Linked DNA regions of Homo sapiens: region 2 is linked to region 1. Evidence: fine-mapped expression QTL. A gene starts in region 1. The other region holds a variant in brackets. All regions are shown on one strand. Distances are between the middles of the regions.

Region 1 (8,500 bases):
GGACGACATCCGGAGCCGGCTGCAGGCCGGGGCAGACCTCCATGCCCCCCTGGACCACGGGGCCACGCTGGTGAGGGCTGGGGGGTGAGGGGCACACGGGGCTGGGGGCCTCGCTACTTGGAGGTGGGGGATGGGGCCGAATTCAGGCCGGGCGCTTGCCTGCAGCTGCACGTCGCAGCCGCCAACGGGTTCAGCGAGGCGGCTGCCCTGCTGCTGGAACACCGAGCCAGCCTGAGCGCTAAGGACCAAGACGGCTGGGAGCCGCTGCACGCCGCGGCCTACTGGGGCCAGGTGAGTGCGGGCGGGAGCAGGTGGGAGGGGGCTTCCAGCGCAGCAGTCTGCAGCTCCGGCCTGCCGTCCACAGGTGCCCCTGGTGGAGCTGCTCGTGGCGCACGGGGCCGACCTGAACGCAAAGTCCCTGATGGACGAGACGCCCCTTGGTGAGCTTGCGGGGCCCACCTCCACCTGGGGGAGAGGACAGGCGGGGAGGGCGCCCCTGACGCCTGCGCCCACTTCTCAGATGTGTGCGGGGACGAGGAGGTGCGGGCCAAGCTGCTGGAGCTGAAGCACAAGCACGACGCCCTCCTGCGCGCCCAGAGCCGCCAGCGCTCCTTGCTGCGCCGCCGCACCTCCAGCGCCGGCAGCCGCGGGTGAGCGCCGCCCCCAGCAGGCCCCGCCCCGGGCTTGGCCCCGCGGACGTCAGCCCCGGGCGGAGTGCCAGCCGAACTGGGGGCAGAGTCCGAGGGGGTGGGCGGGGTCCTCCGGGCACTCCCCTTCCCCTCACTCCCTCTCCTCTCTCCTCCCCAGGAAGGTGGTGAGGCGGGTGAGCCTAACCCAGCGCACCGACCTGTACCGCAAGCAGCACGCCCAGGAGGCCATCGTGTGGCAACAGCCGCCGCCCACCAGCCCGGAGCCGCCCGAGGACAACGATGACCGCCAGACAGGCGCAGAGCTCAGGCCGCCGCCCCCGGAGGTGAGCGCCCCGTCCCTGCTCCGCCCAGCGCAGGGGTGGGCCTGGCTCTGCCCTGGTTCTCTCTCCGCTTGGACCCCCTCCTGCCTGTGTCAGGAATGGTGCCCTGCAGGGGCCAGCTTTTGCCCCATCTCTCCTGTCTGTCCCTTCATGACCATACAGCCTGAACCCAAGGCCAGGGAGGGGGGAGGAGCCTCCTGATGGCTCTGGGACCTTCACTGCCCGCAGGAGGACAACCCCGAAGTGGTCAGGCCGCACAATGGCCGAGTAGGGGGCTCCCCAGTGCGGCATCTATACTCCAAGCGACTAGACCGGAGTGTCTCCTACCAGCTGAGCCCCCTGGACAGCACCACCCCCCACACCCTGGTCCACGACAAGGCCCACCACACCCTGGCTGACCTGAAGCGCCAGCGAGCTGCTGCCAAGCTGCAGCGACCCCCACCTGAGGGGCCCGAGAGCCCTGAGACAGCTGAGCCTGGCCTGCCTGGTGACACGGTGACCCCCCAGCCTGACTGTGGCTTCAGGGCAGGCGGGGACCCACCCCTGCTCAAGCTCACAGCCCCGGCGGTGGAGGCTCCCGTGGAGAGGAGGCCGTGCTGCCTGCTCATGTGAGGCTGTTGCTCAGCATGCAGGGGCCCTGTCGCGGGCACAGCCCAAGGCTGCCTCCCCACGGTGCGTGCCCTGGTGCTGCGGGTGCAGCACGGAAACCCCGGCTTCTACTGTACAGGACACTGGCCCCTCTCAGGTCAGAAGACATGCCTGGAGGGATGTCTGGCTGCAAAGACTATTTTTATCCTGCAACTCTTGATAAAGGGCTGTTTTGCCATGGAGCCTCGTTGTGTGTTGTGTGTCTCAGCTGGGTCGCTGTCCCACAGTGGGGAGTGGGTTGTGCTGTTTGGCTGGGGTGCCACCCGTGCCTGTGAGCATGAAAGCCTGTAGGTGCGCGCTGGGGCATGTGGCAGCCCTGGCTGTGTGGGAGTGAGGCTCACAGCCACTGGGCTGGAAGCCTGGGCCTCACCCACTCCCTCCCATGCTCAGCCTCCTGGAGCCTCCTCCGTAACCCTTTGCTCTCCTGAGAGGAGCCAGGTGCTTTGAAGGAGCCTCCATGGGGGCCAGGGCCTAGGGTGTCTGTGCTGAGGGGCGGAAGGTGGGGGTCCCAGGGACCATGGCTTGGAAAGGGAGGTGGTGTTTTCCACAAGACTCTTGTGTCAGAGCCAGAGGGGCAAAACAAGCACAAGGCTGTGTCAGAAGCTCCCTGGGGGGGTTGTGGGTCCCCAGTTCCTGGCACGCAGCCTTAATCCTGGGGCCTGGCTGCCAGCTTCCGCCTGGGCTGGCATAGGGGACACGCAGTTGGCCACTCTGGCTCTGAGCTGGCTTGGCACAATGTGTCAGGGTGAGGGGGCCCCTTAGGGGCCTCAAGCAGGAGGGCTGAGGGCACCGCTGGTTCGTCTGTTCATGGTGGGCGGCTTTGTGTGGCCACCAGTGCTGGGTGGTGTGGGTTTGGGCTGTTCTCCCTCCTGGCTCAGCACGGGCCCGTCAGCCCAGTGTCCTTTGGGCCTGCCCTTCCCCTAGCATCCCTGGTTGGAAGGGTGTCCTCACAGGGCTGTGGGCGGGCCAGGGCTGGCTGCTGGTTAAATTTAGTGTGGGGGGTGGGGCAGCTGCCCAAGGTCCACCTGCCACCAGGGCTGCCACTTGGACTCCCTTGCCAGGGGGCGGGCAGGGGCTGGCTCTGCCTGGGGCCAGGCCCATGTTAACCTGTGCCCCGGCCTGGGGGCCAGAGGGGCAGGCCTGCGCACGGGGAGGCTGTTGTGGCAGCGGAACAGAGACGTGCACGGTGAGAGGCCTGGGGGCCGGCTGTCCAGGGCTCCCGATGGCTTTTCTCCCAGCCAGCAGGATCAGAGGAGCCAAGGTCCGACTTGGGCCTGGCTGGTTGCCCACAGCCCTGCTCAGAGGGCCGGCTCCCTGACCCCCATGGTTCAGGTTTCGGTGCCCGACGCTGGGGTGGGCCAGCGTGGAGCCTGGCCTTTCAGCTCAGCAGGCCTGTGGAGGTGGGGCTCTGACGGCCTATCCCAGCTCGTTTCCTACTCTCTCCTCCAATCGGGAACAAGAGGGCTGGAGAGCTCAGGTCACCCCTAGCCTCGGGTGTGTCCCAAGGGCAACCCCCAGCTGGTGCCTGGTGAAAGGGCATGACAGCAGCCACGGTGTGAGCTGTCCCAGGGCTCAGGGCTGGACTGCCTGGCTCCAGCCCCCTCCCCCAGCCCCTCGCAGTGCTCATCAGGGACCAAGGTCCAGCTACAGAGCTCTTGCAGCCTCTGGGCCATAGCTGCCAGCTCTGGAGGGTCCAGATGGAACCCAGAGCCTGAACACCCCTCCCCTCCCCCCAGCACCCCCTGGATTCCTGAGGCCTGGCTCAGTTAATAGGAGACAGGTCCGCTGGCCCAAGCAAAGATGCGGGTGCCACGAGGGCCAGGCCTCGGCCAAGCCCTGCTGGGGTAAATCCCAGCAGCCCAGGCTCCAGTCTCGCCTCGGGGGTCCCTCCTTGCCAGCTCTGCCAGCCCCTCAGGGCTGCTGGGCACCCCTTCACCTCCTGAGCACCCCAGGTGCTCAGCCCTCTCCCCCTCCCCCCATGTCTAGTCCCTCAGAGCTGTCCGGACTGACGTCTGTACCTACCCCCCATGTGGGTCTCCTGCTCTCCCTTCGTGGGGACACTAGGCAGGCACTGGGCCTTGCCCCAAGCCCCGCCTGCCACCTCACCCACTGCCTCTGCCTCCCTGGGGCAGAGCTGTTCCCAGACGGGTGGGGCGGGGCCCAACTGTCCCCAGCTCCTTCAGCCCTTTCTGTCCCTCCCAGTGAGGCCAGCTGCGGTGAAGAGGGTGCTCTCTTGCCTGGAGTTCCCTCTGCTACGGCTGCCCCCTCCCAGCCCTGGCCCACTAAGCCAGACCCAGCTGTCGCCATTCCCACTTCTGGTCCTGCCACCTCCTGAGCTGCCTTCCCGCCTGGTCTGGGTAGAGTCATGGCCTCGAGCACAGGTGACCGGAGCCAGGCGGTGAGGCATGGACTGAGGGCGAAGGTGCTGACGCTGGACGGCATGAACCCGCGTGTGCGGAGAGTGGAGTACGCAGTGCGTGGCCCCATAGTGCAGCGAGCCTTGGAGCTGGAGCAGGAGCTGCGCCAGGTATGGCCCAGGGCCCCTCGCTGCCCTCCAGGTCACAATGGGGTGGCCGAGTTGGCCCCAGCCCCACTGGCACATGGGACAAGGGCTGAGGGGTTAGGTAGGGCACAGTCTCCCTGCCTGCTCCCCTCCCCTCCCAGGGTGTGAAGAAGCCTTTCACCGAGGTCATCCGTGCCAACATCGGGGACGCACAGGCTATGGGGCAGAGGCCCATCACCTTCCTGCGCCAGGTGAGGCTCCTGCACTGCCCGGAGCACCCCCCCACCCCCAGCCCATGTGCCCTGGCCTCAGCACTCCGTCTTCCCAGGTCTTGGCCCTCTGTGTTAACCCTGATCTTCTGAGCAGCCCCAACTTCCCTGACGATGCCAAGAAAAGGGCGGAGCGCATCTTGCAGGCGTGTGGGGGCCACAGTCTGGGTGAGAGCCAGGGCCAGGAGGAAGCAGAGGGCCGCCCTGCCACTGGAGGAGGGAAGTCCCTTGGGAGGGCTGAGGAGAACTTCACCTGTACTTCCCATCCTGTCCTGCCCGAGTCCAGGGGCCTACAGCGTCAGCTCCGGCATCCAGCTGATCCGGGAGGACGTGGCGCGGTACATTGAGAGGCGTGACGGAGGCATCCCTGCGGACCCCAACAACGTCTTCCTGTCCACAGGGGCCAGCGATGCCATCGTGGTAGGCTGGGCATGGGCACCAAGACATTCCTGACACTGCAGAGGGGGCGCCCAGGGTGGGGGACAGGTGCGGCCCCAGGCCTCGCCAACCCTGCCTTCCCCTTCCTTTCCGCAGACGGTGCTGAAGCTGCTGGTGGCCGGCGAGGGCCACACACGCACGGGTGTGCTCATCCCCATCCCCCAGTACCCACTCTACTCGGCCACGCTGGCAGAGCTGGGCGCAGTGCAGGTGGATTACTACCTGGACGAGGAGCGTGCCTGGGCGCTGGACGTGGCCGAGCTTCACCGTGCACTGGGCCAGGCGCGTGACCACTGCCGCCCTCGTGCGCTCTGTGTCATCAACCCTGGCAACCCCACCGGTGCGTTCCCCGCCGCCCCGCCCCACTCCCCCCGCGCCCACGTTGCGTTCCCCGCCGCCCCGCCCCACTCCCCCCGCGCCCACGGTGCGTTCCCCGCCGCCCCGCCCCACTCCCCCCGCGCCCACGGTGCGTTCCCCGCCGCCCCGCCCCACTCCCCCCGCGCCCACGGTGCGTTCCCCGCCGCCCCGCCCCACTCCCTCCGCGCCCACGGTGCGTTCCCCGCCGCCCCGCCCCACTCCTCCCGCACCCACGTGCGCCCTGGCCCAGGCAGTGCCGGGTCCGCTGGACCCCGGCTGCCCAGCGGAGGGCAGTGCGCCCCCTTGGCTCACCCAGCACTGCTGCCTCCCCGGCACCCCAGGGCAGGTGCAGACCCGCGAGTGCATCGAGGCCGTGATCCGCTTCGCCTTCGAAGAGCGGCTCTTTCTGCTGGCGGACGAGGTGCGCGGCGCGGGGGAGCGGGAAGCCGGGCAACAGTCCGCCCCCGTGACGCCTTGCGCCCTTCCAGGTGTACCAGGACAACGTGTACGCCGCGGGTTCGCAGTTCCACTCATTCAAGAAGGTGCTCATGGAGATGGGGCCGCCCTACGCCGGGCAGCAGGAGCTTGCCTCCTTCCACTCCACCTCCAAGGGCTACATGGGCGAGTGCGTGCGTACGAGGCGGGTGGGGGCTCGCGGGCCATGGCCAGGCCCTCCTCGCCCGATGGGCCACCCCCTCCTCCGCACCTGACCTGGCCGTGCGCAGGTGCGGGTTCCGCGGCGGCTATGTGGAGGTGGTGAACATGGACGCTGCAGTGCAGCAGCAGATGCTGAAGCTGATGAGTGTGCGGCTGTGCCCGCCGGTGCCAGGACAGGCCCTGCTGGACCTGGTGGTCAGCCCGCCCGCGCCCACCGACCCCTCCTTTGCGCAGTTCCAGGCTGTGAGTTGGGGGCAGGAGGGGGTCCAGGTGACCTAATCAGGGGTGGGGGATGCCGAGTGCCGTGCCCTGATGGGCCCTCCCTCCGCGGCCACAGGAGAAGCAGGCAGTGCTGGCAGAGCTGGCGGCCAAGGCCAAGCTCACCGAGCAGGTCTTCAATGAGGCTCCTGGCATCAGCTGCAACCCAGTGCAGGGCGCCATGTACTCCTTCCCGCGCGTGCAGCTGCCCCCGCGGGCGGTGGAGCGCGCTCAGGTCAGGCGGGGGCGGGGCCTGCGGGGTGGGCAGGGGGGGCCGGGCATCCCTCTCTGACGGCTCTCCGTCCACAGGAGCTGGGCCTGGCCCCCGATATGTTCTTCTGCCTGCGCCTCCTGGAGGAGACCGGCATCTGCGTGGTGCCAGGGAGCGGCTTTGGGCAGCGGGAAGGCACCTACCACTTCCGGTGAGGCCTGGCCCTCACTCCCTGTCCCGCCACCCTGGCCCTTCACTCACTGTCAACTCCTTTCAGGATGACCATTCTGCCCCCCTTGGAGAAACTGCGGCTGCTGCTGGAGAAGCTGAGCAGGTTCCATGCCAAGTTCACCCTCGAGTACTCCTGAGCACCCCAGCTGGGGCCAGGCTGGGTCGCCCTGGACTGTGTGCTCAGGAGCCCTGGGAGGCTCTGGAGCCCACTGTACTTGCTCTTGATGCCTGGCGGGGTGGGGTGGGGGGGGTGCTGGGCCCCTGCCTCTCTGCAGGTCCCTAATAAAGCTGTGTGGCAGTCTGACTCCAGGGAGGAAGCGTTGGCAGCTGCGTGGCCCGCTCCCACCTGCCTACCCTTCTTGCAGGCCTGAGTCCCTTCAGAGAAGGGACCTTCCACGGCCACCACCCACCTCTTCCTCCTGAAGACCCCGTGCCCACCATAGGCTGGGTCTTCCCTCTGGCCTCTGGTTGTGGGGCAGAGCCCGTCAGATCACACAGAAATGGGTTGAGAGGGTCCAGAGTGTGAGGAAAGCGCAGGCCCCACACCCCTTTGTGGAAGCCCCCAAGAATCTAGGGAGCCAGGGGCCCAGGTGGCCACCCGAAGAAACACAGCCTTTCCTGAGGAAGGCACAGTGAACTGCCTCCTTCCTGGCTCCCTTTCCTGTGAGGTCCATGTCTTCCCTGGGGCAGGGGGAAATACTAAACCAGCATGGTGCTGGCTGGTCAGGGTGACTGACAGCTCAGGAAGGAAGTCTTGGTTCTCTTACCCAAGGAAGCAGGGGTGGGGCCACTGTCTGGGGGGCCAGAGACCACCTTTGGTGTCATTGTGTGGTGCAGTCCTTCGGCTGGGTGGAGTGGGAGGCAGAGGGAGAGGATAAGGGAGCGTCCCAGGGGAGGGCTGGGGCTGGAGGAGGCAGGGGCTGGGCTGAGCGGGAGTGGGCAGCGCTGTGTCCTGGCCTGGGGAGCATGGCTGAGCACCTACTACATGCAGACACTGCTGGGGGGTCACTCAATCTGCACAGATGCTCTTCTGAAGTAGGCATGATAGTCCCCATTTGATAGACGTGGAAACCTGCAACCCAAAAACCTGCTGAGCTGACAAGAAACCCCCTCAGAGGCCTCGGCAGCCAGAAAAATGCGTTGGGTCCAGTGCCCTCAAGTCCGCCAAGGACAGGGCTGGCTTTAGAGACTCACAAACTTGGGAGATAGGACTGGCCAAGGGCACCTGGTTTTTTTCGCTCTGGAGATGGTTCTTAACCACAGGCCACACACACTTCACAGCCTCATCTGGCCCTCGGGAGCCCCAGAGGGCACAGCTCTGGGCAGGAGACACAGCAGGTGGGCCCCTCCCTTGGCAGGGCGGGCTCGAATCAGGCAGGGTGCTCCTAGCCTTGTCACCGGACACCGAAGGGCGTCACGGGCAGTGGCTGGCGGTGTCCTTCTGAGCTAAGCTGGGTCCTGACCTTTCACACTTCCCTCCTAACTTCCATGGCTCTGTCACCGCCTTACGGAGGAGCTGAAGCCACAGACACAGCAAGGTTGGGGTCCGCACCGGAAGTATCCAGTGGTAGACGGCGGAACCCTTAAGAAACGGACGCCTTCATGCGGGCGGCTGGAGAAGCGGGGGCTGGGCACTGCAGCAACCACGCTTCGGCTGACACCAGGAAGGAAGCACGCCTGGAGCGGATCCGAAACTACTGAGAGGGGCCAGGGCTGGCCGTGGGCGCAGGCCGATCCTTACATTCGAGGCCGGCCCAGCTCTGTAGCTTCCCCCTCTGGGCCTCTCACCCGCGCAGGACCTCGGTGGGAGCGCGCACGTGGCGGGGCGGGGGGCCGCGGGCCCGAGCCCGGACTGGCCACCGGGGGCGCCCGCGAGCTGACGCTCTGGCCCGTTGCGGTCTCTGTGGCCCGCGCGACCTTCCGGCCCTGGAGCCGGTGGCCGCGGGGCTCCAGCGACG
Region 2 (8,928 bases), 30 kb after region 1:
CAGTTACACGAAGAAAAAAATACTCTCGCCCCTCCCCCACCCTGCCCCCAGAATGCCTGCCCAGCCCTGCTCCCTACCCCAGAGGACTTTGGTTTGGGGGCCCCCACCCCACCCACCGAGAGCCTGCCAGGCCCCGGGCCCACTGTCCTGGAGCCCCCAAACTCCTGAGCAGTCACCAGCTGGGGACCACGGGCCGAGGGAGGGAGAGGAGGCGGGGACAGGTCGGGAAGCTCTCTCGGGGCTGGGAAGAGCTGCAGGCCAGGACGAGGACAGGAGAAAGGGAAGGAGAGACCGGGGCGGCTGGGCAAGGCCCAGGCCAGGGCGCGCAGGAGCCACAGGGAGGCAGCCCGGCCCCAAGGAGGCAGCGTCGCTCGGCTCCAGGACACAGAAGGCACTTTCTCGGAGCTGACCCGCGGCCAGCGGAGGGCGAGGCGGTGCCCGCGGGAACTGGCCGTGAGGTGGGGGGCCAGAGGCGCCCTCCCCGCCGCTGCTGTGCCCTGGCTGCACCCTCAGACCAGGCAGAAGACGTGGGGAGCGCCGGGGCCAGGGGCCTGGGGGAGTGGAGGGGGCTCCAGGGCTGGGCCGGGCGATTCTGGCCCCTCTGCCGGGAGAGCGAGTGCGGAGTTCGGCCTGGCTGGGGGCGGCAGGACATCCCTCCTGTCCCCGGGCGCCCCCGCTACAGCACACCCTCCATGAAGCTGGTGTCCAGGTGCTGGATGAGCACCCGCAGGAAGGACATCTCCTTGCGGGTGTTCTCGAAGATGACGCGCGGGTCGTCGGACTGGCAGCGCAAGCAGTTGGGCGCCATCACCATGGCCAGGTTGCTGACATCCATCTTGGTGACCGCGACGTTGGCCGGCTGCACGAAGACCTGGTGGAGGAGCGAGGGTGGGCGCGGAGGGGCGGGGGCGGGGCGGGGAGGGGAAAGCAGCGGGGACCCCCGGGGAGGGAAGTACCTGCAGGAAGCGGATGAGGTAGCACAGCACCATGCGGTTGATGCGGGGCAGCGCGTGCACCACGGCCACCGCCGCCTCGGGGCTGTCGTAGTGCGCGATGCACTGCTCGTAGAACTCGTGCGGGATCAGGGGCTCCTCCAGCTCCCGGTACCACAGCTTCAGCAGGGACGCTGGGGACACAGCACGGGGCTCAGCGGCCCTGCTCGGCGGGCACCCCTGGGCCAAATGGGGTCCCGTGGCGGACATGCATGGAGGGGTGCTGTGGGGGACAGGCTGGGAGGGCCGGCTCATTCTGGACAGGGCCCATCTGGCCAGGCTGGGCCCTGACCCCAGAGGGCCTTTCGGCTCCTGGGGGCCTGAACTCGATCCTGGAGGCATGTGGGTCACGCCAGCAGAGTTGTGCAAAACAGGATTTTTCTCAGGAGTCGTCTGTGTAGCCACCGTGAGGGGGTGTCTGCAGAGCAGGCACAGCTGAAGGGCACAGGGCAGAGAGCAGCAGGTGGGGAGTGGGCTAGACATAGCAGGCACGGCAGAAGGGCACAGGGCAGCGAGCAGCAGGTGGGGAGTGGGCTAGACATAGCAGGCACGGCAGAAGGGCACAGGGCAGGGAGCAGCAGGTGGGGAGTAGGCTAGACATAGCAGGCACGGCAGAAGGGCACAGGGCAGCGAGCAGCAGGTGGGGAGTGGGCTAGACATAGCAGGCACGGCAGAAGGGCACAGGGCAGGGAGCAGCAGGTGGGGAGTGGGCTAGACATAGCAGGCACGGCAGAAGGGCACAGGGCAGCGAGCAGCAGGTGGGGAGTGGGCTAGACATAGCAGGCACGGCAGAAGGGCACAGGGCAGGGAGCAGCAGGTGGGGAGTGGGCTAGACATAGCAGGCACGGCAGAAGGGCACAGGGCAGGGAGCAGCAGGTGGGGAGTGGGCTAGACATAGCAGGCACGGCAGAAGGGCACAGGGCAGGGAGCAGCAGGTGGGGAGTAGGCTAGACATAGCAGGCACGGCAGAAGGGCACAGGGCAGGGAGCAGCAGGTGGGGAGTGGGCTAGACATAGCAGGCACGGCAGAAGGGCACAGGGCAGGGAGCAGCAGGTGGGGAGTGGGCTAGACATAGCAGGCACGGCAGAAGGGCACAGGGCAGCGAGCAGCAGGTGGGGAGTGGGCTAGACATAGCAGGCACGGCAGAAGGGCACAGGGCAGGGAGCAGCAGGTGGGGAGTGGGCTAGACATAGCAGGCACGGCAGAAGGGCACAGGGCAGGGAGCAGCAGGTGGGGAGTAGGCTAGACATAGCAGGCACGGCAGAAGGGCACAGGGCAGGGAGCAGCAGGTGGGGAGTAGGCTAGACATAGCAGGCACGGCAGAAGGGCACAGGGCAGGGAGCAGCAGGTGGGGAGTGGGCTGCATTGCACAGGTAGGCCTCGGGGTGCCCAGCAGACACCTGGGGAAACTGTCCAATGGGCAGAAGGGAGGATGTGCTAGAAGTGACTGGGAAGCCATCACATCACTGGGCAGGATCAGGGTGGACCCCAGAGGCGGAGACAGGGGCCCCTGAGAACCACTGCCTGAGCCAGGCCCGCTCTGCTGCAGCGTGTGTGGGGGACTCACCAGGGACGTGGGGGTCTTCCAGGCCTGTGGGCACCTTCCACTGGTCCACCTGCAGCTTCAGGGCATTCACCTCGTCAATGTCCCCAGGGACCCTGCAGGGCACAGGGCAGGTCTCAGGCAACAGGAGCCTGTGCTGCGGCTTCATGATTCCGCCTGGACACTCCCTCCGGTAGGCCCCTGCTGACCCGGGGAGGGGAGCAAAACCTCAGGACCCCCCGCCACCCCGGTTGGCCTCTTTCCCACGAACGTGGGTGGGTGGCGCTCTTCAGGATTCCTGCCCCACACACCTGCGTCCGAGTGTGGTGCTTCCCCAGGCCACCGTCCCTCCCTGGACCCCTGCTGGCTCCCTGGGTGGATGCCCTCACCAAAGGGCCACTGGGGCTCAACCTGCAAGCCTCAGTTTCCCCAGCTGCCCTCCTGGGGCCTGGGTACCCCTTGCCCTGACAGGTGAGTCATGGGAGTGGGTGGCACCCTGTGCCATCCCTGTTCACAGACAAGGGCTGCCTGTCATCTGAGGCTCCCACTCCAGGCTACCCATGGCTGGTGTCCAAGCACGCTCTGGACCCCTGGTGGCCGTCTCTGCAGGGGCGCCCTCCCTGGCTGGCTGTGCTGCCTCTTTGGAATGGGTCCTGCCCTCTCTCCTGGCCTGCACACCCTCAGGGTCAGCTTCCACACTGTGGCCCCACCCTTCCATCTGCTCTCAGGTATGGGTGCGGAAGCAGCCCAGTGGGCCTGAGGCTTAATGGCCCCTGCATGCCACAGATGCATGGTGGACACATGGCTGTGGCCCCCACACCCGGCGCCCGGGGTTGCCGTGGCACCTGAAGATGCCCTCTGTCTGGTCACCGTTGAGCGCCAGCACCTCCTCAGAGAGCCGTGTCTGCACCCAGGGCAGCTGGCGCTCGGGGTAGCGCTCTCTCTGCATGCCCATGACCTCCTGCAGTGCGCTGCCGAACATGGACGGGCTGAACACGGCGTTCTTGGCATGCCGGATCTCCTCCACGTTGGGCTTCTTCAGCCCCTGTGAAGACAGAGGCTCCGTCCTGGTCTGGCCTGGCCATCCTCAGGACCCCCCGCCACCCCGGTTGTCTTCTTTCCCCGAACATAGGTGGGTGGCGCTCTTCAGAATTCCTGCCCCACACACCTGGGTCCGAGTGTGGTGTTTCCCCAGGCCACTGTCCATCCCTGGACCAGCCCTCCTCGCCCCCCAAACCCTAACTCCTCCTGGGCTGCCCCTGGCTCTGCCTCCCCCTCCTCTCATCCCTGTGAACTCCTGGCTCCAACTAGAGCTACGGACAAGCCCAGCTCCCTGGCCAGAGTCACCGTCTACAGCACCAGCTCACAGGGGCCCTTGGGAAGGTGGGAGTGAGTCCTGGGCCGGCCAGGGCTGTTGGGGAGCACAGCAGAGGCCAAGCTAGCTGAGCTGGGGTGAAACTTCCAGAAGTCTGTGGCAGGGCTGAGAGCGCTGGGGAGGGGTATGATGGGAGCAGCGCATCAGAGAGAAGAGGATGTGGGGAAGGGGCCAGGCTCTTGGGACAGGTCCAGGGAACGGGGTCCT[G/A]TCCCTGTGGTGCGGTGTGACTGAGCCCGTTGCCTGCCTTGCTCCTGAGCTGGGGGTCCGGGCCCAGGAAGAGCCCCCGGGGGAGGGTGCAGCCCAGAAGAACACGGGGTCAGCCTAGCGTACCCCGCCACCCGCCTAGGCGGGCTCCATGTGGCACCCTCTGCGCTGCTGCCCCATACCAAACTGCAGGCGGGGCTCCTGGGGCTGTCCACCAAGGGTCTCTGTGTCCCCGCCTGCCCTCCCCGGCCCCCCAGGCGCACCCGTACCTTCTTGGCCCCGGTCAGGGCTGCCTTCTGTAGCTTGTGGTAACAGTACTTGGCATACGTGCTTATCGCCACCCCTGGAAAGGAAAGGGGCCTGATCAGCCTGATGTGGGTGTGTGGGTGTGGGGCCAGGAGAGGGGTGAGCAGACACAGCTCCTTCGAGGGCCCTGGGGGGCTGGGCTGGCCTTGCCCCGGTCACCCCCTGCCCAGCACAGCGGGTCCTCACACTCTCCCAGGCAGTGTCCTTTAGAGCAGAGGCCCAAGGAGCACTTCCCCACCTGCAGAGGGACAGGCTTGGGAGGAACCGCCTGGCAGCTCCACCTGCCCTCCTACGGCCACGCAGGAACAGGAAGGGCAGGACCTGGGTCTGAGGGCCTCTAGACCCCACTGCTCCCTCCCCGGGGCCTGACCCAGGGAGCTGTCCAGGTATTTGACTCTTCTCTGCTTCAGGCCCCTCCCTGGCTTTTAGGCTGTGGGCAGGAGCCCCTGGAGGAGTCATTTCCACCTACCCAGCACCCGCAGCCAGTGCTGGGGGAGGCAGGCACTGAGCTATCTGCACAGCAAGCCCAGCTCTGCTGCAGCCCTGGGCCTGAAGTACCACCTCTGGGCTCTTCTGAAGGACTGAGGCAGCAATGAGAGGGCCCAGTCTCCTTTCTCAAAGGAGGGGCTTCCTAAAACTCAGCCCGACAGCAGGGTCCCTGAGGGGAGGGGCAGTGTGCCTGAGTCAGCACCTGATGAGGGACTCAGGGACCTCAGCCTGGGGAGTCTCCAGACACAGAGCCCAGGGGAAGGTGCTAGAGGGGAGAGGATTCCCAGGCTGGGTCTGGAAGGCGCGGCACCTTCCTGCTCCAGGTCGGGAAGCAGCAGATGAGAGAACACGCCAAGAGAAGCTGTCTGGGGCCAGGGGAGCCATGGACCTCGGACAGATGGACAGGACCCTGTGCTTCTGGACATGAGACCTGCCCCAGCGCCCAGCGCCTACCGCCTGCCAGGGTGAGGGGGGCCTCTGGATCCTGACCCCCAATCGGAACACCTTTGTCTTCTTTGAAGGAGCAGTTTCTGGTGGACAGCTGAGGGCATGGGGTCCTTGGACCAGGTTAAAAAAAAGTGCACACGTGTCTTGAGTCCATCTCTAATTATCACAGAATAGTTGACATGTGACTGCTAAGGAGACTCTTTTTTAGAGGAACCAAAATGAATTTTTTTTTTCATAGACGTTTAGGTCCTAGAAAATCTGTCATGGTCCTTGGGACCACAGGTCTTGGCAGAGGATGTGGCCCCAGCCTCCAGCGTGGGACCATGTGGAACCAAGGGCCCCTCTGGGCAGGCTATGAGGTACCCTTGTTTTTCTAGAATGGATGGTGCCCACGCACACTGGACCCAGGCTTCAGAGCCTCAAGAAGGCAAGGAGGGAATGAGCTTTGCAGGAAGGCGGCAGAAACCCAGGGCCTCAGCTCAGCAGCTGGGACATGTAGTCACTAGGCTGGGGGGCCTGGGGCAGACGGCAGGGCTGGGCCTCCTGCTTGCTGTCCCTGCGGGAAGACAGGCCCTGATCTCCTGTCCCCAGGCCCCTGGTGGGACAAACACCCCAGCCTGAGCCTGCTTGGGACTGGGACACCCTCCAACACTCTGTGACTGGGATACACTGGGGCCACCGCCTCTCAGCTGATGAAGGTGATCATAATGCAGTCTCTCTGTGCCTCAGTTTACTCCTCTGTAGGATGGGGACTGTGACAATGCCTGTCTGTTGCAGTGCTCAGCAGGCAGCTGCCGGTGTCACAACTGTAGTGGGCAGGCCAGGGACTGAGGCCACACTACTTCACCTGCAACTTCACTCTGGGGGTCAGGCTGCCTGTGCCCTAAGGTCTAGGAAGGTGGGGATGACTGCACTCACGCTGCCTCAGGCACAGGGCCAGGCACCAAGGTGTCTGCTGACCTGCAGTGGGATAGTGGGCAGTGCCCATCGCCAGCCCAGGGAGACCCTCACCTGTGTGGGGTGCTCTGCTCTGAGCCCACTGCCCTGATCCGGCCTTGCCTGGACCTCAGCCCTCATCTCCATCCCCCTCCGGCTGTAGGCAAGCCCAGGAGGGACGGCTGCCCACAGAGGCACCAACAGCAGCAGCTCTCCTAAGGCCTGTGCTACTCTGCTCGGGGGCCAGGCCTGCCCCGGGGACCTTAGAGCTACAGGACCAGGTCACAGGTCTCCCAGGCCACCAGGTGTGGCCAGGGCCTCCTGATGTTGACCCTGCTCCCCACCTGACACACCCTGGGCCGCAATGTCCCACTGGGCTCCACTCCAGGCACAGGGGAGTCTGCTCCCTGCTCCGCCTGGCTGCAGCCAGGAGGCTTTTATGGCCAGCGGTGTCGGTCCAGCTCTCAGGCCACCGGACGCCAGCTCAGGTAGGAGCGCAAAGCTCCTTCTACGCTGCCCCAGATGGAGTGGTCTGAGGACGTCTGTGGCCAGGAATCTCACCCCTACATTGCAGCTGGCCCTCTTCTCCCAGGGTCCTGGGTGAGGCCAGGCTGGGTGACTCGGGACTGGGCCAGGGACCCCTGGCACAGACCTGCTGGTGGCAGCCTCGGAGGTGCCAGGGTGAGGACAAGTCCCTAGCCCAGCAGATGCCATCCTGGCATTCCCCACGAGGGCCCTTCGTGCCCCTGTAGCCTCCTGCTGGTCCCAGAGTTGGCCCTAAGCAAACCTCATCCACAGAAAGCTCGCTGGCACTGTTCTGGGCCTGCATGGGCAGCATGCAGTCAGGGATGGCTTCCTGGAGGAAGAGGTGCCTAAGCCAAGTGGTCTCAAAGGAAGTGGAGCAGAGAGGTGGTGGCGGAGCTCTAGACAGATGAGTGGGCGTGAGGCACTAACTGGCAGGACCACACTGCAGGGGTCGGGAGGACGGCCCTGGAAGCCTGTGTGTGCATGGGTGTGAGCGCGGAGCTGACTTGGTCTGACAGCGTAGCTCTCAAAAGGGAGAGCACAGCCCTGGGTTCACAGGGCTTTCCTGAGCCAGGGCCTGGGGGAAGGTAGAGAGGTGGAAGCTGTGTGAGAGTGTGGGTGGGAAGGGTGCTGGTGGGGAGGGTGGGGAAGCCCTCCCCCTGCTTCTGGGGCTGTGCTAGGGGCCCACCATCAAAGCAGGGGACGACTCCTTGCAGATTCTGAACACCAGGCTTGGCTCTTGTGGCCCAGGGGCAGCCCTGGGCGGGAAGACAGGACTGAGGGGTGCTTGTCTGCAGGGCACCACACACCCCTCCACCTGCAAACTTCCCTGTGGGGGTCAGGCCCAAACACTCACCTGGGGGCACCTCCAGGAGCCCTCAGCCGGCAAGTTATCATGCCCCCACCCCATCAAGAACCCAGCAAGCAAGTTGGAAATGGCTCTGGACACCACAAAGACACGTGTGGACAGGCTTGACCGCTCCAGGGGTCCAGTCAGTCACCTGGGCCCTCCAGCTCGCTCAGGAGGCCACAGGCCTGAGGTTAGTGGCCCCATCCCCCCCGCCCAGAAGCGGTTAGAGAAGAGAAGGCCAGGCGGCCGAGGCTGGAGAGCAGAGCTGTGCAGACGCCGCGCCCAGGGGCTGCGGGGAGAGGCCCTACCATCCGGCTCTTCAACATAAGGCTTGGGTTTCTTTCTCAATTTGGACTTCTTCTTAGTGTTTCTTTCCAGGAGCTCTTTTATGTGCTGTGTCACTGGGGAGCAAAGACAACCATCAGCACGACAGAACAAAACGCCAGGAGCCAGCGCCCACTCAGCTCCCGCACTTGGCTGGTGAGCAGGCCCCTGGGCCTGTTGGGGGCTCACCCTGTGCAGCTGGGGGCTGAGCGTTTCTGGGGGGACGTGGCTGTGTGAGTGGCAGAGAGGTGCCGGGGGCCCTTCTGAGCACTGTGTGGGCTGGGAAGCTGCCGTGCCTGTGCTGGCGTGAGTGGAGGTGCAGGGAAGGCGCCAGGGGAGCAGGAGGAGAACACAGGGAAGGCGCCTGGGGAGCAGGAGGAGAGCAGGCAGCTTCTGCCCTCTGGCTGGCAGCAAGGCTGGGGCAGCCATGGCCTGGGCCCCCTGCCTGCCGGTCAGAAAACCAACAGAAACAAGTGGGCGAAGGCAGCTGGCCCCAAGCCAGGTGCTGCAGTCAGAGAGGAGGGGGCTCCCCTCAGGCTGATCTGGGTCTGCCTCCCGCTCTGCACAGCGTAACTCCGCAGTGTTGCCACTGGCCTCGATGACCTAGCTGAGGTCACGGCTGGCAGGCTCCTGTGAGGTACCGTCTCCTCCTCCTGCTCCGTGCCACACTCTGTAGGAGGAGTCACTGTGCCCGGCCCACACCTGAGGGGTGGAGTTAGGCTCCAGCTCCTGGAGGGTGGATATGTACGTAAATTATTTGTCATTATTCTGCACAGATTTGTCTATTCCTACCTATTGAATTACTCATTTATATCAGTATGGACTTAGTTTTTTCTTCTTTTTGAGATAGGGTCTGTGTCACCCAGGCTGGAGTGAGTGGTGCGATCTCAGCTCACTGCAACCTCCACCCACCGCAGCCTCCACCTCCCGGGTTCAA

What was found. PIP is the estimated chance that this variant, and not a neighbour inherited with it, causes the effect. A credible set is the group of variants that fine-mapping cannot tell apart.
Region 2: its variant is the best candidate, but not a certain one, in a credible set for the expression of GPT in lung (GTEx, PIP 0.75).

Annotation. Positions count from the first base shown.
Region 1 is chr8:144,500,322-144,508,821 of GRCh38, forward strand. GPT (glutamic--pyruvic transaminase) reads left to right here and starts at 3,819. Exons shown (of 11, transcript NM_005309.3): 1 at 3,819-4,145; 2 at 4,283-4,372; 3 at 4,450-4,558; 4 at 4,677-4,810; 5 at 4,925-5,168; 6 at 5,527-5,606; 7 at 5,674-5,810; 8 at 5,911-6,085; 9 at 6,180-6,335; 10 at 6,410-6,522; 11 at 6,589-6,851. The coding sequence starts at 3,984. The coding sequence ends at 6,679. PPP1R16A (protein phosphatase 1 regulatory subunit 16A) reads left to right here. Exons shown (of 12, transcript NM_001329443.2): 7 at 1-70; 8 at 166-291; 9 at 365-440; 10 at 521-650; 11 at 808-973; 12 at 1,199-1,800. The coding sequence ends at 1,582. It overlaps LOC101928953 (a long non-coding RNA gene), which reads right to left and starts at 5,153. Exons shown (of 5, transcript XR_007061149.1): 1 at 5,051-5,153. RefSeq lists enhancers at 1-156, 3,467-4,127, 7,230-7,359, 7,670-7,799 and silencers at 524-883, 2,545-2,839, 8,300-8,500.
Region 2 is chr8:144,529,746-144,538,673 of GRCh38, forward strand. ARHGAP39 (Rho GTPase activating protein 39) reads right to left here. Exons shown (of 12, transcript NM_025251.3): 7 at 7,976-8,068; 8 at 4,384-4,457; 9 at 3,381-3,580; 10 at 2,560-2,651; 11 at 957-1,126; 12 at 1-871. The coding sequence ends at 677. Among named protein-coding and RNA genes, the nearest start is that of C8orf82, 5.1 kb to the left of the region's middle. RefSeq lists a silencer at 233-332. The variant G/A (reference allele first, on the strand shown) is at 4,118.